7 linked regions of the Homo sapiens genome follow. The protein of the gene in region 7 purifies or fractionates together with the protein of the main gene of each other region. This does not show direct contact. Each region holds a gene or a part of one and is shown on either strand. Other genes may lie near its edges.

Region 1 (3,500 bases), on a different chromosome or scaffold from region 7:
ACTCTGTTGCCAGGCTGGAGTGCAGTGTCACGATCTTGGCTCACTGCCACCTCCATCTCCCGGGTTCAAGTGATTCTCCTGCCTCAGCCACCTGAGTAGCTGGGACTACAGGCATGCACCACCACGCCCAGCTAATTCTTTTTGGTAGAGACGGAGTTTCACCATGTTGGCCACAATAGTCTCGATCTCTTGACCTCATGATCCACCTGGCCCATTTTTTTTCTTTTTTTTTTGAGACAGAGTTTCACTCTTGTCACCCAGGCTGGTATACAGTGGCAAGATCTCAGCTCACTGCAACCTCCACCTCCTGGGTTCAAGTATTTCTCCTGCCTCAGCCTCCCGAGTAGCTGGGATTACAGGCACCTGCCACCACACCTGGCTAACGCTATTTGCTCTTTAAATTCATGGCCAAAGGCCTCAAACAGGCCGTAAGTATTACCCTTCAATCTGACTTTTCTTAGTAGGTTGACTTTCAGTTTCTGAGACTACTACTCCACACCTCCTCCTCTTTGTTCAAAGATCACCCATCCCTCCCTCCACCCTAGTCTCAGCTGATAATCTCATTTCATTCTTCAATCAGAAAATAAAATTAGACAATAATTTCTCATTTTCCAGATACTACATCTATTAACCTATCTGCATGTACACTGTTGGGTCTCCTGTTGTATAGAATAGTCCTGCTCCCATCCAAGGCCAATCCCTCTATGTGTGCCGTTGATCCCATTCTTATTCACCTTCTGAAAGACTTGACATCTTCAGTCATTCGCTCTTTCCCCTGCATCAACGTATCACTGATGTACCATTCCCACAAGCTTATAAAAATACTCTAGAATTTCCCAACTTATAAGAACCCTCTCTTAACCCTTCAACCCCCAACAACCACTACATCATTTTTGGGTTTCCCTTTCACAGCAAAAGTTCTCAGAATATTTGTCCACAGATATATCTCCACTTCCTCACCTCCCATTTGCACTAAGTCTGAGAAGCCAGAGAAATGTCCATTGGCTTAAGTTGTATAGAGGTTTATCAATGACCTTTATAAAACACTTCCAGTGATATACTTTCATAACAACTCATTATATTTCTCAAATTTTCTTCTCTCTTCACTGTGACCAAAACCTCTAACTTTTATATATATTTTCCCTGTCTCTAATTTATTCTGAGTCATTCTCAGAGGTAGTCATTCTCTGACCACCCTAAAGTCCTTCTTCACATCCATTACAACATCATTCTATTTCCCTCAAAATACTTAGTGCTCTCTAATTGCTACTTATTTATTTACTTGCTTTGTCTGTCACCTTCTCCCCTCCTGTGCCCACACTGGAATGCAGACTCCATGAAGGTAAAGACCTTCTCTGTTTTCATCACAGTTACATTCCAGCGCCTCCACAGTGCCTAATATACAGTGGTAGCCGATAAATGTTTCTTAAAGGAAGGAATGGGGCATGGCTAGTATTAAATAAGCTCACTGTCCTTACCACACCATAAACCAGAACCCATCCACATGTATTTGCCCTTGCTTGGGAGAGCTCTCTGAGTACAGGAGTTGGCTTGATCCATTTTTTTATCCTTAGTACATTAGCACATCCCTGCACATAGTGGTTGTTCAATAAATAACTGTTGGTAAGTTAAAATTTAAAATATATTGACTTGTTTTTGTTTCCTGAAACAGGATCTTGCTCTGGTACCCAGGCTGGAGTGCAGTGGTGCAATCATGGCTCATTTGCAGCTTCAACCTCCTGGGCTCAAGTGATCCTCCCACCTCAGCCTCCTGGGTAGCTGGGACTACGGGCACGCACCACCACACTCGGCTAATTTTTTGTAGAGACAGGGTTTCACTATGTTGCCCAGGCTGGTCTTTAACTCCTGGGCTCAAGTGATCCACCCACCTTGGCCTCCCCAAATGCTGGAATTACAGGTGTGAGACAGCACGCCTGGCCTTCATGTGTTCTTATTTGGGGTACAAAGACATTAATTCTCTATTTGATGAAAAACGTTTATAAATACAATTTTGGAAAGGACCTTGGAAATTATCCCTGTCAAAAAGCTTACTGTACCACAATTATATTAATGGCCTAAGGGAAACTCTTTTCTACTTAAGTCTTCCTTAATTCCCACTTTCTTCATTTAGATTATGAAGTAACATGCAAGGTATCTTGCAGCTAGAACTGAGTAAGTTCATATTAAAACTGTTTTGCAGACAGACCAAGATTTCAACAGATGAAAAGATATTTTCACTACAATTATTCATAATAAAGCTATATCTTTATCAAACATTCACTACTTACTGATATCTTAGTCGTATATATGATGAAACACCAGGAATTCTGAAGAGTTCTTTATTAATCTAAAAAATAAATAAAAGCCTTATGAATGTGGTATTATGATTTCATTCTGTTTATAATTATGGTGTTTAATTTGTATCTTGCCCTAAGGCATCAGGAGCAGCAGCAAGTAGTATAATACGTGGTCCTTTTTTAAAAAAGAGATCTGTCATTAATTTTAGGAATCTTAAGCTTACATAACAGATAATAAAAGACATAAAAATATTTAGGAAGTTTTTTTTTAAGTTGACATTACCTTATGTTATTGAGAATCATAGAAGAGGTGGGATTTAAGATTACTCACTAAGGATTGGTAAGACATGGGTAGAAACAAAGAGAAGGTACTCAAAACAGAGGAGTAACAGGAGTAAAGGAATACCAGACATCTCAGATCTCTACACTTTTGAGTAAGTTTTAAAGTACCAGTGAAAAAACTAGCCTGGAAAACATTCACAAAAGCAAAAAATAAAAGATAAGGCCTAATGAACAGAAAGGGGCCAGATAGTGAAAGGCCTTGGAAACTGTGAACCTAGTCCTGCAGGCAACAGAAACATTTTAAGACTCATTATCAAGTAGAAAGATGGCATGATACAGGTAATTCTGTATTTTGGGGATATTAGCTGGTGTGTATGATTGATGAGATGATACAGAAAGCAGGGAGATAAAAAGCGAAAGTATTTAGTGGACCACCCCTTCCTAACGTTACTGATTCTATCTTGTGACCAAATTTCTTCAGTCTCAAATTGTATTTTATAGCTCTGCGACATGAATATATTAGTTGTTATCTAAGTAACCAAGGTTTGAAATGCTACATGCTGATTCTTCACTTCTGGGACAGTCTATTATTACCAGTTCCTGATTATTCTTCCCTCAGGAACGCTTTGCACATCATTCCCTTTCTATCCCACTGCCAGTACCCTAATACAGGAAGGGCCTCACTACCTTATGTTTGGGTTTCTCAGTTTCTCTGCCTCCAGTATTTCCTCCCTTCATCCAACCTAAACATTGCTACCAGATTCATCTTCAGAAATACCCTGCACCTATTACCCCTTGCTCAGAAATCTCTGAAGGCTTCTTACTGCTTGAGAAAAGACAAACCAAATGCCTTAACTGGCAATGGAGGTTGCCAGGAAGCCACCCTGACATCACTGCTCAATGTCTTCAGGCCCAGCTCAT
Region 2 (3,500 bases), on a different chromosome or scaffold from region 7:
GAATTTGGCGTAAACCAACAGGAATGGAAAACTGAAACCACAAAAGGCCGGTTCAGAGTATTTTAAGGAGCAAAAAAATTGCCAAGCATAGCCCAGGTAGTTTGGACCTAAAATTAGGGTCCAGAGCAAAAACTGGCCTATGATCTCCTTGGAACTCAAAGATGATTCCTGATCACCTCTAGGAAGAATAAAAATGAAAGGCAAGACCAGCCCAGCCAGAGATCAAATAATAGGAGATGAAATAGGGAAACCACCAGTTGAGAAACATGTACTTGGATGCTTGTAATGTACCTATGTAGAACACAGCTTGCTGTGCTTGTTGAGGCACCCACCACCCCAACTGGGAAGGGTCCCTGAGTAGCAGATACCTCTTACTGTTCACATACCATGTTGGAACACGCACTGGCAAAAGTCATGAACTTGGGGTTGAATTGCAAACAGGTAATCGGGCCTGTGTGTTTACCATCCAACACAGCTACTTTTATACCGCTCTCTCCATTCCAGACATGGATCTTGCCATCCTCTGAACCTAAAGAGGATATTCACGGAAAATGTAACAGCTCAAGGCGCAATACAAAGACAACTGGAAATGAGACATGGATTGAGATCTGAGGATACGCCAAGCTTTAGGACCCATCCCTCAGGCAAAATTGAGAGGGAGGAGAGGCAGTGAAGGAAGGACACTTTGGAAATTTATCTTGACCCTAGCTATTTGTTCACAGGCATGTCACTTCCGTTCTAACTTCAGTTTTCTCATCTAAAAAAGGGGCCGAATACCATTACCCTACCAACAGGCAGCCACTAAGATGACTGAATGTAGGGTTACACCAGGACATTAGCATTACTAATAAGGTAGTGCTTGTGGAGTTTAACTCAAATTTTGGTCCAGTCAGGGCAGTTAAAAGACACTATGTCCTTGGCATAATGTGCTATACAGAAATCTAAGAACATCTATCAAATAGATAATAATGTCTCAGTTAATAATTTAAACAAAGAAATGCATAGTACCAGAGAAATAACCCCCACAGGGGATAAAAGGAAACTCACCAATCATAATAAACTGAGAGTCTGGAGTAAATGAAGCCTCCAGTGTGACAGCTTTGCTGTTGGCATAACCCTAAAACAAAACAGAGCAGTTCTTTTGTTCTTACAGAGCCATTAATAAAAACAGCTGCCTACAAACACTGACTCAGCACATGCATCACCTTCCTTTCCATGAAACCCTTTCCTTGTCATGTACTACACCACCAAGCTTCCAAATGTGGTTGCCATCGTTGACAATCCACTCCCACCCTCAACTCTGTATTCAAGGCATACTCAAGGGGGCAAGAAAACTTTATTGTTAGGAAATTATTTTATATCTAAATACCAAACTTGGGTCACTTGGTGAGAAATGAACATCTACGAAATCCAAGAGAGGTAAGTTCATGAGCAGGAAGAAAATACAAGTGCATGCCTTCATGAGTAAGTCAAGAGTAACTGTTGGTCTCCACCAACCAGCTAACATAATTCTTAGCATAGGAAGTATGAGCATGGAAACAGCCATGCTTGAAGGCTGTCAGCTCACCCCAAATGTGTGCATCACCACTCCTTTGAATGCATCAATCAGACGAATGAAGCTGCCGTTGGTGGAAATGAGGATGAGCTTGCCATCATTGCTGAATTTAAGTCCTGTCCACTCACAAGTTCGATCATACTGCATCTTAAAGGTAGCAAATGGCCCCTGCAAAAGATAAAAAACAGTAGCCCCAGGCATATTAATAATTTCTTCTGCTAGAGCCAATTCCCATCCTATTCCTTTAGATTACTTTTTGACTAAGGAAAGCAGAGAATGAGCTACTTCTCTGCCACTCTCTAATATCTACCACATTTTTCCTTTTGTAGAAAAGGCTCTTACAGGGCCGGGCGCGGTGGCTCACGCCTGTAATCCCAGCACTTTGGGAGGCCGAGGTGGGTGGATCACCAGAGGTGAGGAGTTTGAGACCAGCCTGACCAACATGGTGAAACCCATCTCTACTAAATACAAAAAATTAGCCAGGCGTGGTGGCGGACACGTGTAATCCCAGCTACTTGGGAGGCTGAGGCAGGAGAATCACTTGAACCTGGGAGGCAGAGGTTGCAGTGAGCTGAGATTACACCACTGCACTCCAGCCTGGGCAATAAGAGCAAAACTCTGTCTCAAAAACAAAACAAAACAAAAAACAGCTCAAAGATCTCAAAGATTCAAAGATTTACCTTATCAAAAGAACGAAGGTCATAAAGCTTGACCATTTCAGAGTTGACACCTGCAGCGAAAATTAACCCTTCTGGATCAAAAGAACAAACTGGCTTCCCCTGCAGATGCATGAGGCCCTAAGAGAAAAGAAATAAGAAATACACTAAAACACACATGCCACAACCATACGTGGAATAACCAAAGACTGCTGGTACAATGGGGAAAAAAAAATGAATCCAGGACCTTACCACTATATAATTTACTTTTCCCAATTAAAACTAAGAAAGGCATACAAACAAATATCAGCCTACCTACAGAACACACACAAAAAAAACATAAAACTAAAATGAAGCTTTTAAAAAACAGGTCTCCAGACAACAATTTCTGATCAACTCTAACTGCACAATATTACAGACACAGAATTCAAATAAAAATAAATCCCTTGAAGCTAAAAGCTCTAGGAACACTTTTAAAAACATTAAGCCAGCTGGGCGCAGTGGCTCACGCCTATAATCCCAGAACTTTGGGAGGCCAAGGTAGGAGGATCACCTGAGGTCAGGAGACTAGCCTGACCAACATGGAGAAACCCCGTCTCTACTAAAAATACAAAATTAGCCAGACATGGTGGTGCATGACTGTAATCCCAGCTACTTGGGAGGCTGAGGCAGAAGAATCGCTTGAACCCTGGAGGTGGAGGTTGCGGTGAGCTGAGATTGCACCATTGCACTCCAGCCTGGGCAACAAGAGCGAAACCCTGTCTCAAAACAAAAACAAAAACAAAACAAAACAACAAAAAACCCACAACAATTAAGCCACAGAGTACAATGCAATCTGCACTAGATTAGGGTATGTGCTTAGCAGCTACCAACTAAAAAAACAGATTTTCTCCAAAGTTTAAAAAGACCCTGTGATCCCAGAATGGAACCACTGTTTTCTCCCTTCTTTGAGAGGTAGAGTTCATTACAGTGCCTACCAAAGAAAATGCTCAAAAAGTATAACTGTGAGGTACCATTACCTGGCAGTTAGGAGACCGGAGATCCCAGAGTCGAATGGTCTTATCAAGAGACCCAGAAATGAAAGTGTCATCCACAGGTGACATGGACAAGGCCACCACCCTGCAATACATCGAGATAAATAGGAGTTGATGCGAAATATTAGCAAAAATTGGATGTGAATTCTAAACCACTCTGCCTATCTATACATATATATACCTGTTCTCCCAAAATTGCCATTTTAAGAAACACAATAAAACACACATACCACAACCATATCTGGAACAAACAAA
Region 3 (3,500 bases), on a different chromosome or scaffold from region 7:
ATTTTTGTATTTTTTTGTGGAGATGGGGTTTTCACCATGTTTCCTGGGCTGGTCTCGAAATCCTGAGCTCAACCCATCTGCCTGCCTTGCCCCCGCAAAGTACTGGGATTACAGATGTATGCTACCACGCCAGTCAGTTGTCTTATTTTAAGAAGCTGCCACAGTCACCCCAACCTTCAGCAATCACCACCCAGATTAGTCAACGGCCATCAACATCAAGGCAAGACCCTTCACCAGCAAAAAGATTATGATTTACTGAAGGCTCAGATGATCAGAAGCACTTGTTAGTAATAAAGTATTTTTTGGTCGGCCACGGTGGCTCACACCTGTAATCCCAGCACTTTGGGAGGCCAAGGCAGGTGGATCACCTGGGGTCAAGAGTTTGAGACCAGCCTGGCCAACATGGCAAAACCCTGTCTCTACGAAAAATACAGAAAGTAGCCGAGCGTGGTGGTGGGCATCTGTAATCCCGCTACTCGGGAGGCTGAGGCAGGAGAATCGCTTGAACCTGAGAGGCGGAGGTTGCAGTGAGCCGAGATCACACCACTGCACTCCAGCCTGGCTGACAGAGCAAGACTCTGTCTCTAAATAAATAAAATAAAATAAAATAAAACAAAATACTTAGACAAGCCATGACTCAACTTCATGTGTATATAGTAGAAAACAGAAGTACCTACTCTAACAAGTAGGTCATTGGGAGAATTAACAGGGTCATTGGGAGAATTAAACAAGACAATGAATAGAAGGTACTCTGCGTAATGTTTTTAAAAAAGTAAGAAATACTGAAAAACGGCCAGGCGCGGTGGCTCACGCCTGTAATCCCAGCACTTTGGGAGGCCAAGGCAGGCGGATCATGAGGTCACGTGATTGAGACCATCGTGGCCAACATGGTGAAACCCCGTCTCTACTAAAAATATAAAAATTAGCCAGGTGTTGTGGCAGGCGCATGTAATCCCAGCTATTCGGAAGGCCGAGGCAGGAGAATTGCTTGAACCCGGGAGGGAGAGGTTGCAGTGAGCCGAGGATTGTGCCATCGCACTCCAGTCTGGGAGACAGAGTGAGACTACATCTCATAAAAATAAATTAATTAATTAAATAAAAAGAAATACTGAAAAATGAGCCACAAATGTGAACAGTGATAATCACGGATGGTGGAGTTGTAGGTAATGTTTTTCTTTGTACTTTTCTGTATTTTCTCAATTCTTCACAATAGGAATGCTTTACATTTAAAAGAAGAAAATAATATTTTTTAATATAGAAAAAGTGCATTTTTTCCCCTAACACATATTTCTGATTGAAACCCTCTAAGCCTTACTGGATAGTTTAAAAAATAACTCTGTGGGCTCCTTCCAGTCCTTCATTTCTAAGCAAATCTCATATTCTTACTCATTTCCTAACCTGAGATCCATGTTGATCACTGCCATTATTCACCATGGACACTGTGCCTTTCTTCTTGTGCTTAATTCTTGGGACTTTTTCTGCCTCAAAAAAGCTTGCTTGATCACCATACAGTTGGCTGAAAAAACATATAAGGTTATAAATGTAAGTACTCTCAAAATGAAATACAGAAGTACTAGTAACATACAGGGTTATCAATTATTTCTTTACAGAAATGCCAACAGAATTCAAAATATTACTTTTTTTTTTTTAGGGAACTTGGGGGAAAAAATCTAAATTTAAACCATATTTTAAAATGCAGATTGAAGCATGAGCAATTATATTTTTCCTCATTTAAGAATAAAAGAATTTGTTCTGCCCTTCCAGAGGTTAAAAGTAAATAAATAAATAAATAAATAAATAAATAAATAAATAAAACAACTTACCCAAAGATAGACTCTCCTCCACGGCCAGTCCCTGTAGGATCGCCAGTTTGTATGATAAAATCCCTCTGTAATATGTAGGATTCTTTGTTAATTCACAGAGTTTGTTAGATAGTTCCAATAACAAAGGAAATGACTAATATCTACCAACTCACCTGTACATTGTGAATAAGGCAATAATTGTAATATTTTATTTTGCACAGTTTCAAGAAATTCAAGCAGGCTGAAAGAAAGTAAATACCAAATTTATCACAGTAATCCACAAACACATTTTTAAATAAGTAAAGCCACAGTAAAATGTAATTTCTAAATTACTATTAAAAGAAAAAAAAAGTCAAATGTCCAAAGCTATAAAAAAGGGCAATAGGCCGGGCGCTGGCTCACACCTGTAATCGCAGCGCTTTGGGAGGCGGAGGTGAGTGGATCACTTGAAGTCAGGAGTTTGAGACCAGCCTGGCCAATATGGTGAAACCCTGTCTCAACTAAAAATACCAAAAAAAATTAGCCAGGCATGGTGGCGGGCACCTGTAATCCCAGCTACTAGGGAGGCTGAGGCAGGAGAATCACTTGAACCCAGGAGGTGGAGGTTGCAGTGAACCAAGATCGCACCACTGCACTCCAGTCTGGGCAATAGAGCAAGACTCTATCTCAAAATAAAATAAAATAAAATAAAATAAAAGGGCAATAAGTCTAGAAAAAAAACATTTTAAATTACCTTTTTTTTTCCTTTAATAGGAGTTTTGGGGCATCTGGGCTAATACAGAAAACTGACACTTATAAGCAATCATTTACTGATGGATTGATTTTATTACGAGAAAAAAGAACACTTAAAGAGCATATTGTAGTAGAAAAGGATCTAGCAGAATATATAAAAATGGATACGGATTATATCAATTAGGAAAAAGTCAAACACCCGGGGTCATTTTTTAAATAATAGTTAAACAGCCCTTTATAAAAATCCATACACTTATGAACAACCTTTCTCATACAAGTTAATCTGCTTATCCAATAAACATTTACTGAGTACCTTCTAGATGCCTGACACTGCCATCACAAATGCCATTAAACTGTGGTCCCTGCTCCCAAAAAGTTCACAGTCTAGTCGTGGAAAGACACATTAACAAGCTCTTAAGGCACTAAGTTAGAAACCAAACAGACAGTAAGATATATGAGGCAATCCCTGCCCTCAAAAAGCTTACATTAAATTAGGGTCCTTACATCTGAACACAAGTAGTTACATACTGGGCATATCTAATTAATAACATGTGTGCCACTTATTTAAAATGGTAAAAAAAGTAGTTTTAAAAATTCCACAAGAGTTCAAAAGATTGTTTCTGGCTAGGGAAATTAGAAAACCTCAGGGAAGGTTAAGGCAAGCATTAAAAGAACTGGACTAGCAGAGAGTGAAGGGTGAGCATTTTAGGTCTGGAAGACTATGAAAAGGCCTGGAAGTGGAAATTTAAATGTTTTAGGGGAGGTCCAAAACACCAAAGTTCTGTAATAGTCTGGTATTACACAGTAATAGAGCATGAAAAGACTGGAGAGATAAGATGGGGCTGAGCTGTTGAAGAGTGCTGAATATCAGTCTTGCAGTTGTTTTTCTTGAATATATTTCTGGGCTTCATGTTTAACAGATAGGGGTGGTCCTTTTACTAGAAACAAAAATAATGAATTTAGGCA
Region 4 (3,500 bases), on a different chromosome or scaffold from region 7:
CTTAAAAAGTACAGGTTAGAGAAAAAGGGAAAAGCAAACCAGGCACAGCAAAACCTCATTAACATTGATTTAGTACAAGAAGCCACTCAGTAACTTAATTTTTAAACCAACATTTCTCACACATTAACAACCAAAGGGCCCGTTTTCTTTTTTAATAAGACCTACTAACTATTAACATACACTGGAAGACTAATCTCCTTCTCCACTTGAAATTCATGAAACTTGGTGTCTCTACAGTAAACCCAGCAGGTCACTTGTTTTGAGCAGATTTCATCTTATACCTTAAAAACAAAGCAAAACAAAACAAAACTCTAGAGCCAATACTGAGCTATACCCAAAATAAGCACTCAATCAATGTGCATTGGTAGCTGATACTGATGATGGTGATAGTATAAACACATCCTCACAAGTTGAATCTTCAAAGTGAACTAAACCGGAAGTTAGGACTCTAGGCTTGTAGTAAGCAATCATACGACATTAGGCTGAACCACATGGAAGGGCCTTTTGTAAGTCAACAAGTCTAATATCAGTAATTTAATACAGTACAGCCCAATATTCATTCAGCAAGTGATTTAATCTCTCTGAATTTCAAATGAGAACTCAGTTTCCCAAAATACATTTACATTAACAGATGCTATGGAAATAAATAAATAAAGTGGGGGATTCTGTGCTTAAATGTTTGGCTTATGCTGAGTTAAAAAGTTTATGATTCTAAATTACGTTGTCGAGCCCTTGGTGTTTAAGAATCCCAAGTTAAATACTGGTTCAAAAGCACTATTTAACTTTCTCTTTAAAAGTTACTCCATAATAAACCATCATCCTAGAATATCAGACCAAAAGTGGCCTTAAATTATCTAGATTCAGGCCATCATACTATTTTTGGAGGAAGCTATGGATTATTTTGTCAGGTCTTCATATTATATACTCCTATACTTTTAGTAAGTTTATCCTTGCAACCTAAGAATTCATCTGTCTACTCACAATCTCTTTAACATTTAAAAAAAACTCACCAACCATGGGTAAGCATTAAGCCACGCGGCAGGAAAACAGATGTACAAGCCAGGCATGGTGGCTCACGTCTGTAATCCCAGCACTTTGGGAGGCCAAGGTGGGCAGATCACCTGAGGTCAGGAGTTCAAGACCAGCCTGACTAACATGGGGAAACCCCCTCTCTACTAAAAATACAAAAATTAGCCAGATGTAGCGGCACATGCCTATAATCCCAGTTACTCGGGAGGCTGAGGCAGGAGAATCTCTTGAACCTGGGAGGCGGAGGCTGCAGTGAGCCAAGATTGCGCCATTGCACTCCAGCCTGGGTGACACAGTGTGACGCAGTCTCAAAACCAAAAAAAAAAAAAAAAGAAAGAAAACAGATTACAAAACCAGTATCTGCCTCCTTCAAAGAAATTAATGTCTGGTGGAAAACTAAGTCACATGACATAACCATAAAATACTGGAGAAGTGCAATGATGAAGACACAAATAGGGGCATTATGGGAACACTGAAGGATCACCTAAACTAATTTCGAGAACGGTCAGGGACACTGTTTTGTAGATCACAGAAAGAAACCAATTTGTTAAGCAGGGATGTTAGGAGGAAAGAAGAAACGTTTACTGAGAAAGGACAGGGATTAAAAAATAAAGGTTGGCCCAGGCACAATGGCTCACATCTGTAATCCCAGCACCATGGAAGGCCAAGGCAGGAGGATCACTTGAACCCAGGAGTTCGAGACAAGCCTGGGCAACAGAGTGAGACCTCATCTTTATTAAAAATAAAAAAATTAGCTAGGTGAGACCTCATCTTTACTAAAAATAAAAAAAATTAGCTATTCAGGAGGCTGAGGTGGAAGGATTACTTGAGCCTGGGAGGTCAAGGCTGCAATGAGCCATGATGGGGCCACTGCACTCCAGCCTGGGTGACAGAGCAAGACCCTGTCTTTAAAAAAAAAAAAAAAAAAAAATTGAGTAACACCGCCCTAGAGAATGAGTAAGGAATTAACAAGAAGGGAAAAAGGGGCATTTCAAATAGAGAAAGAAGGTGACAAAAGGCAGTTATATATAGCAAACTTCAAGTCGATCAGTGTTGTGAAAGACACTGAGGTAAAGATTCCAAGTGGAGCCAGGCATGGTGGTGCACACCTGTAGTCCCAGCTACTCAGGAGGCTGAGGTGGAAGATCACTTGAGCCCAGGAGTTTGCAGCTGCAATGACCTATGATCACACCACTGCACTCCAGCCTGGGCAACAGAGAGAATCCTCCATCTCATTAAAAAAAAAAAAAAAAAAAAAGATTCCAAGTAGACCAATTCCAGGAGATAACAAGATAATATATGGTTCTAGGAGTGGGTAGTTGAGAGAGAATTAAAGGTTCACTGGAGTCACAGAGGCCCAGGAACTGCAAAAGTACGTTGTCTAGCCAGGTCTCATAGTCTTGAATAAACTTGCTGGGAGAAGGGGTGGGGGAGAGAGAATGGCGGTATGACTGAGAAGTTACTAATTAGTTGACAACAATGAGGGGGAGTGAAAAACACATAGCCACTACAGGGTACCATACTCAAAGAACTTTGATTTTTGGATGTCACATTGCCAACTTCCATTTCTGGCAGGAAAAGGTATTTAAGAGATGTGCAGAAGAAGCTACGTCCTCTGGTGAAAGTCAGGTTTTAATTTGGGTTGACTTCTCCCTAATGGAGTATGAGAAGACACATGACAAATACAGTAGTGTTCTCTGGATCATTAATTTTTCTCAAAGACTTGGAAAAAGTGCAGTATCTTGGTATTATAAAAACACCACCAGGCCATGTGCAGTGGTTCACACTTGTAAGCCCACACTTTGGGAGGCTGAAGTGGGAGGATTCCTTGAGCCCAGGAGTTCAAGGCCAGCCTGGGGACCATGGTGAGATCCTATCTCTACAAAAAAATTTAAATTAACTGGGTATGGCAGCATGTGCTTGTAGTCCCAGTTACTCAAAAGGCTGAGGTAGGATCACTTGAACCCAGGAGGGGATCACTTGAGCCCAGGAGTTAAAGGCTGCAGTGAGTCATGATCATGCACTGCACTCCAGCCTGGGCAACAAAGGAAGACCCTATCTCAAACACACACAAAAAACAAAACACCATCATTGTTTTATTATGGAAGGGAAAGAAGTCACATAGATTTCAGTAAAAAGATTCCAAGACATTTCAACTTTGTTCTTTATATAGGCTATATTCTCATCCTTTGTCCCCAGAAATCTCCCATCCCATAATCCAGAAGGTCTTTTTTTTCCTGAACCTTGACTTATAGGGGGAAAAGTCTGAGAAAAATTTAGGCTAATTCAAGTTATGAAGGTAGGAGAGTCTTTAAAGATTGAGAATGATCTTTAGGCGTATAAAATCTAAGTGCCCAAAGTACAAAATTCTAGTCACTAAGCTCAAATTCAAAATTACCTAAAGTTTTGAGTTTTAACTCAAGACTGTCCTCAAGACAAAGGACAGCTGAGTGGTTAAGCAGTCTCTGGAG
Region 5 (3,500 bases), on a different chromosome or scaffold from region 7:
TTCTTGTCTTTTGCTCTGTAGACCACTCCATAGGTGCCCTCCTCGATCCTGTTCAGGCACTGGAACTCCTCGACGCTCCGGCAGCCCTGGGAAGGAAGCGCCTGTGTGAGGTCTCAGTGGCCATGCCAGCTGGAGGGAGGGCGGCTGCGTCCACAGGCACGGCACACCCGGCACGGGGCAGGTGCAGGGCAGAGCCTTGGGACTGGGCCGGGGGTGGAGCCGGGAGCAGCTCAGTTCTTTCAAAGTCTCTTTCCTTGCAAAACCATCTGACACTTTATTATGAAACAAAACCAGTGTGAACAAAAGGCCATCCCAGCCAGGTGCAAGGGCTCAGGCCTGTAATTCCAGCACTTTGGGAGGGCAAGGCAGGAGGACTGCTTGAGCCCAGGAGTTCAAGACCAGCCCGGCCAACATAGCAACACTCTGTTTTCTATTTTTTTTTTTTTTTTTTTTTGAGACGGAGTCTCGCTCTGTCACCCAGGCTGGAGTGCAATGGTGAGATCTCGGCTCACTGCAACCTCCACCTCCTGGGTTCAGGCGATTCTCCTGCCTCAGCCTCCCTAGTAGCTGGGAGTATAGGTACGCACCACCACGCCAGGCTAATTTTTGTATTTTTAGTAGAGACAGGATTTCACCATATTGGCCAGGCTGGTCTCGAACTCCTGACCTCTGATCCGCCCACCGCCTCGGCCTCCAAAAGTGCTGGGATTACAGGTGTGAGCCACTGTGCCCGGTCAAAACTCCTTTCTACAAAATAAAAAAATTAGCCAGGCATGGTGGCTTGCGCCTGTAGTTCCAGCTACTCAGGAGGCTGAAATGGGAGGATTGTTTGAGCCTGGGAGGGGGAGGCTCCAGTGAGCTATGATTAAGCCACTCCACTCCGGCCTGGGTGACAGAGACAGACCCAGTCTCCAAAAAAAAAGCCATCCCAAGAGTCTCTTTGTCAAACTGGATGTGTCCCCTGCTTGTACCAGGATGACACTGAGGACGGGCCCTACCTGCCAGGCGCAGCATGATGCCCCATGCCAGGGCACCTACCCCTCCGTGTACCTTGGGGCCGGTGCCCAGGCCGGATGTCATGTACTCGGGGTGGCCTGTGGCCCGACGCCTACGCTCAGCAGCACTAAGGGGCAGAGGCGCTCACAAGGCATAGGGCAGTCGACAGAGGCCTGCTGCATGCGCCAGAGAGAACCTCTCCGCCCACAGGCACCAAGGAGGGGGCCGAGTCCCTGCCGGTCTCCCAGGCCCCAGAGGCCACTGGCACCTTCTCAGGCTTGTCCCTTCCAAATCGCTCCCAACAATATCCTGCCTTATTGATAGCTGCCTAAGCAAAAGGCTTCTGGTCACACATCTACACTGACTCCCGTAGCCGCTCCCCCATCCAAGCCCTGCACAGATGCCGGTAACAAGGCCTTGGTGCCTACATAACCCGCCCACGCAGGGGTCAAGTGGAAGGCACTGCTCTCCAGTGCGGAGGAGGACGCAACTCGGGCAGCAGTGACAGCAGCGCGGCCGCACGCCCAGGCTGCCTTTCAAGCCGCAGAGCAGTCCTGCGGGCAGCTCCCTGTCCACCCAGTTCCGTCCAGCATGAGAAAGAGGCGGGACCTAGAAGCATGAGGGGCCAGTGGCTGTGCCCGCCCGTCACTGCCCCAGTGGGCCCAGCAGCCCTGTGAGGCGACAGACGCCAACACGGGGGCCAGGCTTCGCTCAGCCCCTGTGGTAACTCCGACTGCCAATGCGGACAGTGGCCCGGGGCGAGGGGAGGGCCTGACCTGCAGGGCCGGCAGGTACTTGGGCAGCTCCTGCTTGAGCTCGATGGGCGACAGGGCAGGGGAGTCGGGCACATAGTCGCCCTCTGTCAGGGCGCTGCTCTGCGGCGTTCCCTCACCCACTTCTTCCTCTGCTTCTTCACTCTCCCCGGAATCTCGGTCGAACCGTGACTCTGGAACTGGAAAAGTTGAACCTAATTACGAAGCTAGGAGTAAGCAAGGATCATGAACCTCCTCCTGCCCCGGGGGCATCAAGCGCGTGGCAGGGCTGCCCCGTGTCCCGCTGGGAGGTGCTGGCGCTGGGCTCTCGTCCCCTGGACACAGGGCACCGAGGCCTAAGAGTGCTGGCAGGCTCGGCTGAGACAGAGCCCGGATGCTGAGCTGGGAGGAGGCGTCGGGTGTCATGTGGGGGACAAGCCCACATCCACGTCCACCAGGCTGAGGACATAACCTCACTGCCTGTCGGAGGCTGGGCCAGGCCTCTGCTCTGCAGGGACAGGCCCGGAGCCACCATCTGACGGGCCTCCCCTGTGGGGAACTGGTCCTGGGCTTCCCAGCTCCTCGGCCCTGCTGGGCACTCAGGACGCCCTTGGTCAGCACTGTGCCTCGCTGAGGAATGCGGGCCCCACCGGCACAGCCTGGAGCGGCCAACGAATCAGGCGGCCTCCCAGACCCTGGCGTGCCCCACGCTGCGCAGGACCGGCTGTCTTAGGAGAGGGCTGCTGCACTCGGAGACAGACAAGGAGGGGGCTCTGTCTCCAGGGAGGTTCTTACCAACCAAGAGGTGGTTTTCATTTTCTCGTTCTTCATCTTCACTCATTTCTTCCTCACTTACTTCTTCTGCAAGAGAAAGGAGGCGTCTGCTCAGACCAGCACCGGGGCGAGTGCTGCCACAGGCAGGATGCGGGCTCCGCTTCAGCTAAGCAACAAGTGTTCCCAAGAATGGATATGCAGGCCGGGCGCGGTGGCTCACGCCTGTAATCCCAGCGCTTTGGGAGGCCAAGGCGGGTGGATCACCTGAGGTCAGGAGTTCGAGACCATCCTGGCCAACGTGGTGAAACCCCGTCTCGACTAAAAATAAAAAAATTATCCGGGCGTGCTGGCGCACACCTGTACTCCCAGCTACTTGGGAGGCTGAGGCGGGAGGATCACTTGAACCCGGGAGGCAGAGGTTGCAGTGAGCCGAGATCATGCCACTGCACTCCAGCCTGGGCAACAGATCAAGATTCCATCTCAAAAAAACAAACAAAAAGAATCGATGTGGAGGTGTCCCGAGAGAGTCCTAGATAGAAGGGAGTTTCAACTCCCCCGCCCGCCAGCTACTTCTCTGCGGTTTCTAACACTATAGTGAAGTCACAACACCTCACATAGTCGTCGCGGTGCCTCACCGGCAGACTGCTCTGATGCCTCCTCAGAGTTGCTGCCGGTCTCCTCCTCCTCCTCTTCCTCTTCCTCCTCCTCCTCCTCTGATTCTTCACTGGTGCTCCCTTCCTCCTCCTCCTCTTCCTCCTCCTCCTCTTCTTCCTCAGAACCTGAGCCTGATTCCGCTGTAGAAAGACAGCAGAGCAGAGGGTGAACCTGGGCCTTCCTGGGCAGCAGTGGTCAAGGCCTTGGCCAGGCGGTTCCAGGTACCTGACGAGGACTCGGCCGAGCTGGTCTTCCTCTCGCTGTCGCTGATGTCCTGTAAGTCGGACAGCAGGTCCCTTTCTTCCATTTTCTCTTCTTTTACTT
Region 6 (3,500 bases), on a different chromosome or scaffold from region 7:
ACTCAATCTATATAACGGCCCCAGTGACATAGGTACTATTCTCCCCACTATACAGACAAAAAGCTGACACGGAAACTAATCATATAATTTGTCTAAGATCACATAACTAGTAAGAGGCAATGTCAGGATTTGAATCTGGGTCAGTCTAACCCCAAAGCCCAAATTTTTACAGCTGCTTCAACACATGCCAAATACAGTATAACACATGCTCAGAAATTCTAATCTAAGACTAAGGGCTCAAAAATACTGAAAGATCAATGATTAATTGTGAGAATGATACTAACATCTTTTACACATAATCATACTTAAAGAACTTCAAATCTTGCCAAAGCATGCTTAAGGTGATACAATTCTTTAAAAAAAAAAAAAAGTCCTTTGAATTTTCAATCTATAGGCTTTTAATATGTTCCTAAGAGGAGATTCTGTTCTCTGTAGGATTTTACCAGAAAGACGAAGAACAAAACAGAATGTGAGAAACAATCCCATAAATAGTATACTGCTGAGAAGCAAATGTGAAAAAAATTACAGTTCAAATAAACATGTTACAGTTCAAATAAATGTACGTGTTTTGATGGAGATGACACCATTACACTGATTTCTCTAGAATACAATCCTTTGAAAACAAAATTTAAATGATCCCAAACCCTTTTTTCTAGATTTTAATCATGTGTTTCCTGAAAAAGTTGAGTGTAATCTGAAATCATAAAGATTCATTTTGAAGACTATAGCTTATTATAAAATACTATGTAACAAACATTTTGGTATGGAAGCAAAGTTAGAATAAGAATACAATGCTTTACTGAAACTTGCTACTTATACTAGGCTGTAGCTCAAAGAAAAAAAATTTTTTTTCTCCCTGTTGGGAAAATGGAGAGAGGCTGTCAGGAGCAGACTGGAAGGACGTGACAGGTGTGGAACATCCATCAGATTTTTTTCACTCTAAGGATAGATACTTCCCTTGGCCAGGCACAGTGCTTCATACCTGTAAACCCCAACACTTTAGGAGGCTAAGGTGGGAGGATCACTTGAGCCCAGAAGTAGAGACCAGCCTGGACAACATATGAGACCCTGTCTCTACAAAAAAATAAAACAATGAGGCGGGCATGGTGGCACATGCCTGTAGTCCAGCTACTGGGGAGGACGAGGCAAGAGGATCACTCGAGCCAGGAGTTCATACAGTGAGACAGTGAGCTGTGATTACATTCCAGCCTGGGTGACAGAGTGAGACCCTTCTCAGAAAAAAGCAGGGGAGATCATTCCCTTAATCTGTGAGACAATGACCCCCATCTTCCAGTTTATATCCAAGAACGAATCAATGTAGATACAGGAACAAGGATCCCGAATTAGGCTACAGGAGACACAGATGCCAGTATTGGCTCTGCCTCTAATTAGCTACATGGCTTTAAGCAGTCATGTTACCTTTCTGTCTCTGTGTCTTCAACTGTAAAACAAGGTGGTTCACCTTACTTCACACCATACACAAAAATTAACTCAGTATGTATCAGAGGCTTAAATGCAAGAGCTAAAACTAACACTTAAAAAAAAACAGGAAAAAAAAATCTTCACAATGTTGGGTTAGTAAAGATTTCTTAGATACAACACCAAAAGCAAAATCAATAAAAGAAAAAAATGATAAACATCAAAATTCAAAACTTTTGTACTTTAAAAGACTCCATTAAGAAAATGAAAGAGGCCAGGCGCGGGGGCTCACACCTGTAACCCCAACACTTTGGGAGGCCGAGGCAGGCAGATCATCTGAGGTAAGGAGTTCGAGACCAGCCTGGCCAACATGGTGAAACCCAGTCTCTACTAAAAATACAAAAACTTAGCCTGGTGTGGTGGCACGCATGTGTAATCCCACCTACTTGGGAGGCTGAGACAGGAGAATTGCTTGAACCCAGGAAGCGGAGGTTGCAGTGAGCCAAGATCATGCCACTGCACTCCAGCCTGGGCGACAGAGTAAGACTCCAACTCAAAAAAAAATAATAATAATAAAATTAAAGAAGGCTAAGCGCAGTGGCTCACGCCTGTAATCCTAGCACTCTGGAAGGCTGAGGCAGGCAGATCGCTTGAGCGATCAGGAATTTGAGACCATCCTGGGAAATGTGGCGAAACCCAGTTTCTACAAAAAACACAAAAATTAGCCAAACGTGGTGGCATGTACCTGTAGTCCCAGCTACCTGGGAGGCAGGGGTGGGAGGATCACTTGAGCCCAGGAGGTGGAGTGAGCCCTGATCATGACACTGCACTCCACCCTAGGTGACAGAGTAAGACTGTCTCAAAAAAAAAGAAAGAAAATGAGAAGAAAAAAAAAACTACAGACAGGAAAATATTTAAATTAAATCATATATCAGATGAACGACGCATACCCAGAATGAATACACATACAAACACACATACACACACTTCTATAACTCAAAAAAAAAACGAACAGCCAGGCGCAGTGGCTCACCCCTGTAATCCCAGCACTTTGGGAGGCCAAGCAGGCGGATCACCTGAGGTCAGGAGTTTGAGACCAGCCTGCCCAATATGGTGAAACCCCATCATTACTAAAAACACAAAAATTAGCTGGGCATGGTGGCAGGCACCTATAACCCCAGCTACTCAGGAGGCTGAGGCAGGAGAGTTGCTTGAACTCAAGAGACAGAGGTTGCAGTGAGCCGAGATGGCACCACTGCACCCCAGCCTGGGCAACAGAGCAAGACTCCATCTCAAAACAAACAAACAAACAAAAAAAAAAACAACCCAATGGGCAGTCCAAGTGGACAAAAGATTTGAATAGATATTTCACCAAAGAAGATCCATGAAAGTCTAATAAATAAGGACATGAAAGGATGTTCATCATCATTAGTCATTAGGGCAATGCAAATCAAAACCACAATGAGATACCACTTCATAGTCACTAGGATGGTTACACGCAAAAAGACAACAAATTTAGAGAAACAAGAACTCTTATAATTACTAGTAGGAACATAAAATGGTACAGTTACTTTGAAAATCAGTTTGGCAGTTTCTTAAACAGTTGAATTTGTGATATAACCCAGCAATTCCACTCCTGGGTATACATCCAAGAAAAATGAAACATATTCATGGGGTGACTTGATGTGAATACTCAAAGCAGCCTTGTTCCAAACAGCCAAAAAGCAGAAACAATCCAATGCCCATTAACTGGTATCCAATAAAAAGGAACCATGTACTACATGGCAGATGGATGAACCTCAAAAAGCATTATGGAAAGTAAAAGAAGCCAAACACAAAGGACCACATATTATATGATTACATTTACATAAAATGTCCAGAAAGGACAAATCTATAGAGACAGAAAGTATATTTGTGATTGCCTGGGGCTGGGGGTGGGAACAGGGAGTAACTGCAAATGGACATGAGGCATCTTTCTGGAATGATGGAAATGTTCTAAAATTGGATTGTGGTGATGACTGAACAATTATGTAAATTTACTAAAAGATTATTGAATTGTACATTTTAATCAGGTAAATCTT
Region 7 (3,500 bases):
TCTCAGCCCAAAGCTAAAACTCTCCATTATTTAAAAAAAAAAAAAAAAAAAAAAAAAAAGGCTTAAAAATAGACAGGAGAGTAAGAAGGGTAAGAAATATGCAATGCTCTGATCTAGCACTCAATATAATTTCCTATTAACCCACCTGTTCAGGTAACAACATTTTAAAAACTCTTGAATTACACATCACTTAATCTACACATTGACCAGAGCCAAAAAAAAAAAAAAGGAAAAAAGGAAAAAGGCTGGGAATTCAAGTTCTTTAAAACATTGACTTCTGGGCCAGTATTCAAGCCTAGAAGTCAATATTTATTACCTATTATCCTGAGACTAAGCTCAGATCCTAAGGAAAATTGTAAGCTTTTTGGTCTGTGTAATCCGTAAATCAAAAACTTAAGGAAATATCTTAAAAATAATTTGTCTCTCACCAATCATAGTTCTGGTCTATTTAAAATAATAAACAGACAACTACTCTCTCAAGTATAAATATGTTGGTTTATTTCAAAACTTTTTCGTAACAGGCTATAAAAATGAACTTCTTAGCCCTGACAGTTACTAGGGATATCATTGGTTTCCATTAACTAACAATGTTGGGCAAGTCATTTGGTAATACAAGTTATGTACTAATCATTTACTTTTTTTAGACAGAGTCTCTCTCTCTGTCACCCAGGCTGCAGTGCAGTGGGGCAATCTCGGCTCACAGCACCCTCTGCCTCCTGGGTTCAAGCAATTCTCGTGCCTCAGCCTCCCGAGTAGCTGGTACTACATGCATGTGCCACCTTGCCCTGCCAATTTTCGTATTTTTTAGTAAAGATGTGGTTTCACCATGTTGGCCAGGTTGGTCTCGAACTCCTAGCCTCAAGTGATCCACCAGCCTCAGCCTGGGATTACAGGTATGAGCCACTGTGCCCAGTCTCATTTACTTTTTTTAAAAAGGGAAGAAGGAAAAAGACTGAAACTCTTAACATCCATAAGTGCCCATTGATTGATAGAGGGGGAAGAAAAAGGAATATTTTAAAATATAATTATTGGCCAGGCACAGTGGTTTACACCTGTAATCCCAGCACTTTGGGAAGCCAAGGCAGGCGGATCACTTGAGGCCAGGAGTTTGAGACCAGCCTAGTCAACATAGCGAAACCCCATCTCTACTGAAAATACAAAAAAATTAGCGGGGCATGGTGGCGCCAGTCTATAATCCCAGCTTAGTGAAGAGGCTGAGGCCGGAGAATCACTTGAACCCGGGAGGCAGAGGTTGCAGTGAGCCAAGATCGCACCACTTCAGTCCAGCCTGGTAGACAGAGTGAGACTCTGTCTTAAAAAAAAAAAAATATATATATATATATATATATATGCCTGTAATCCCAGCACTTTGGGAGGCTGAGGTGGGCAGATCACGAGGTCAGGAGATCGAGACCATCCTGGTTAACAAGGTAAAACCCCATCTCTACTAAAAACACAAAAATTAGCTGGGCGTGGTGGCGGGTACCTGTAGTCCTAGCTACTCGGGAGGCTGAGGCAGGAGAATGGTGTAAACCTGGAAGGTGGAGCTTGCAGTGAGCTGATATTGTGCCACTGCACTCCAGCCTGGGCAACAGAGCAAGACTCTGTCTCAAAAAATAATAATAATAATTTAAAAAAAAAAAAAAAAATATATATATATATATATATATACACATATAATTATTGCAGAATACTCCAAATTAGATTTTCAGTCACTATCATGCAGAACTGAGTAGGTTATCAAAAAAATCAGTACTAAATAATTACATAACCTTAGAAAATTAAAAAGTACCATGGAAATTTAAAGTACAACATGAAAACTGTGCAGAAAAATCAACATTCACCAGAGAATTATCTATAGCACACTGTATCAAACTCAAGTAAAGTCCTATACCAAAAATCGAAGAGAAAAAAAAATTAAAATATAAACCTGTTGGTTGCCATGAAGTAAGAAGTCTGTGCTAAGTCCTTGCTTGCTAAAGAAAAAAAAAAAAAGTCAGGGGTGGGGGAGGAAAAAAGTTATTAGTTCCATTCATTCTCAACAAATATTTAGTAAGCATTTAATATTTGCAAGGTACTGTGAATATAGTGGCAAATGAGACACACATGGTCCCTGTAAACCTGACGTTTACATTCTGCCAAAGTAGACAGATCAATGATTTTTAATTTTAACATTAATAACTATGCTGCTTCCAGATCTAGGTACTCAAGCTTTATTCTGCACACCACATATCTGAGGTACTTGTTTAAATGCAATTCTTGGACCTGCTCCCTAAAATTTAATTAAATGTTTGGAGAAGGGTGCAAGCATTTTTTAACAAGTAACCCAGAGATTCTGATGTAAGGATTCACTGAGAATCACTAAACTACAGGATGAACTAAGATGATCTAGAAGCAAGATCAGAATCTAGAAGACTTTGACATATTTGGGAAAAGTGACTTTTGCTGTTAAGAAAGTTTTTAATTAAGGCTGGGCACGGTGGCTCACGCCTGTAATCCCAGCACTTTGGGACGCCGAGGTGGGCGGATCACCTGAGGTCCAGAGTTCAAGACCAGCCTGACCAACATGGAGAAACCCCGTCTCTACTAAAAATAAAAAATTAGCTGGGGTGGTGGCGCATGCCTGTAATCCCAGCTACTCGGAAGACTGAGGCAGGAGAATCGCTTGAACCCGGGAGGCGGAGGTTGTGGTGAGCTGAGATCGTGCTACTGCACTCCACCCTGGGCAACAAGAGCAAAACTCCGTCTCAAAAAAAAAAAAAAGTTTTTAATTAAGTAGCCCTAATTAAGATTTAATTAATTAATCCCCAAATCATCAAATAATGTAATATATTACAATGAAAAAATTTAACTTCTTCCAAAACAAACTGTTCTGGGTGACAAAGCAAATTTTTATCTTCCTCAGGACATAGTCTTCTCAATATTAACATACACCCATCTCTAGTCTTATCCTTGTGCAATATAACATTTTAATACTTTCAAATATAAAGAACTCAGGAAAATTTGGGAATTTTCACAGGAAACACATATTAGTAAAATGTAAAATAAGACCAATTATCAGTTTGGCCTAAAAATCATAAAAGGCACTTAAAGGCACAATAGTGTTCAGATATTCTTGATACTAAACTAAATAAGAGAGTTTCATTCAATTATACCTAATATTGTTAAATTAGAATTAAAAAGAAAAGTTCTGCCAAGGGATTGTATATCATGGAAAGTCCAAATAAATTCTGTATGATCCTCTAGGTGGCCTTTAATCAACCCCAGAATTAAAATAAGATCACCCACTCCTCACAACTTTCATAAAATTTCTGTTAAATAACTTCACAAACTGCCCAACTTTGACAAACATTCTCAAGAGGTTAGTTCTCTTTAACTAGAGATCATCTAAAAATATTACTTGTAAGAACCCAACAGAAAAACATCAAGTCAGAACAACTCATTTTGATTTAAGCCAAGTAGGCCTTTAAATTTAGCCAAAGCAGAACTATTATGTATTG

The links.
Region 1: the proteins of CCNT1 (region 7) and CPSF2 purify together in Homo sapiens (affinity purification with mass spectrometry; one large-scale study listed by BioGRID and IntAct). This does not show direct contact.
Region 2: the proteins of CCNT1 (region 7) and WDR82 purify together in Homo sapiens (affinity purification with mass spectrometry; one large-scale study listed by BioGRID and IntAct). This does not show direct contact.
Region 3: the proteins of CCNT1 (region 7) and PPIL4 purify together in Homo sapiens (affinity purification with mass spectrometry; one large-scale study listed by BioGRID and IntAct). This does not show direct contact.
Region 4: the proteins of CCNT1 (region 7) and PRP4K purify together in Homo sapiens (affinity purification with mass spectrometry; one large-scale study listed by BioGRID and IntAct). This does not show direct contact.
Region 5: the proteins of CCNT1 (region 7) and CDK11B purify together in Homo sapiens (affinity purification with mass spectrometry, with the first as the bait; one large-scale study listed by BioGRID). This does not show direct contact.
Region 6: the proteins of CCNT1 (region 7) and OXSR1 fractionate together in Homo sapiens (co-fractionation; one large-scale study listed by BioGRID). This does not show direct contact.

The regions. Positions count from the first base shown.
Region 1 is NC_000014.9:92,124,969-92,128,468, reverse strand, and holds part of CPSF2 (cleavage and polyadenylation specificity factor subunit 2), read right to left. Parts: intron 2,348-3,500; 5' UTR 2,289-2,347; intron 1-2,288. UniProt on the Homo sapiens protein: Component of the cleavage and polyadenylation specificity factor (CPSF) complex that play a key role in pre-mRNA 3'-end formation, recognizing the AAUAAA signal sequence and interacting with poly(A) polymerase and other factors to bring about cleavage and poly(A) addition.
Region 2 is NC_000003.12:52,258,150-52,261,649, forward strand, and holds part of WDR82 (WD repeat-containing protein 82), read right to left. Parts: intron 3,331-3,500; coding exon 3,231-3,330; intron 2,353-3,230; coding exon 2,236-2,352; intron 1,724-2,235; coding exon 1,568-1,723; intron 1,118-1,567; coding exon 1,048-1,117; intron 530-1,047; coding exon 387-529; intron 1-386. UniProt on the Homo sapiens protein: Regulatory component of the SET1/COMPASS complex implicated in the tethering of this complex to transcriptional start sites of active genes.
Region 3 is NC_000006.12:149,539,544-149,543,043, forward strand, and holds part of PPIL4 (peptidyl-prolyl cis-trans isomerase-like 4), read right to left. Parts: intron 2,044-3,500; coding exon 1,976-2,043; intron 1,889-1,975; coding exon 1,824-1,888; intron 1,517-1,823; coding exon 1,399-1,516; intron 1-1,398. UniProt on the Homo sapiens protein: PPIases accelerate the folding of proteins. It catalyzes the cis-trans isomerization of proline imidic peptide bonds in oligopeptides.
Region 4 is NC_000006.12:4,027,800-4,031,299, reverse strand, and holds part of PRP4K (serine/threonine-protein kinase PRP4 homolog), read right to left. Parts: intron 1-3,500. UniProt on the Homo sapiens protein: Serine/threonine kinase involved in spliceosomal assembly as well as mitosis and signaling regulation. Connects chromatin mediated regulation of transcription and pre-mRNA splicing.
Region 5 is NC_000001.11:1,638,505-1,642,004, forward strand, and holds part of CDK11B (cyclin-dependent kinase 11B), read right to left. Parts: intron 3,498-3,500; coding exon 3,402-3,497; intron 3,317-3,401; coding exon 3,158-3,316; intron 2,610-3,157; coding exon 2,544-2,609; intron 1,949-2,543; coding exon 1,773-1,948; intron 87-1,772; coding exon 1-86. UniProt on the Homo sapiens protein: Plays multiple roles in cell cycle progression, cytokinesis and apoptosis. Involved in pre-mRNA splicing in a kinase activity-dependent manner. Isoform 7 may act as a negative regulator of normal cell cycle progression.
Region 6 is NC_000003.12:38,168,537-38,172,036, reverse strand, and holds part of OXSR1 (serine/threonine-protein kinase OSR1), read right to left. Parts: intron 1-3,500. UniProt on the Homo sapiens protein: Effector serine/threonine-protein kinase component of the WNK-SPAK/OSR1 kinase cascade, which is involved in various processes, such as ion transport, response to hypertonic stress and blood pressure.
Region 7 is NC_000012.12:48,696,208-48,699,707, forward strand, and holds part of CCNT1 (cyclin-T1), read right to left. Parts: intron 1,977-3,500; coding exon 1,931-1,976; intron 32-1,930; exon of another isoform or gene 1-31. UniProt on the Homo sapiens protein: Regulatory subunit of the cyclin-dependent kinase pair (CDK9/cyclin-T1) complex, also called positive transcription elongation factor B (P-TEFb), which facilitates the transition from abortive to productive elongation by phosphorylating the CTD (C-terminal domain) of the large subunit of RNA polymerase II (RNA Pol II).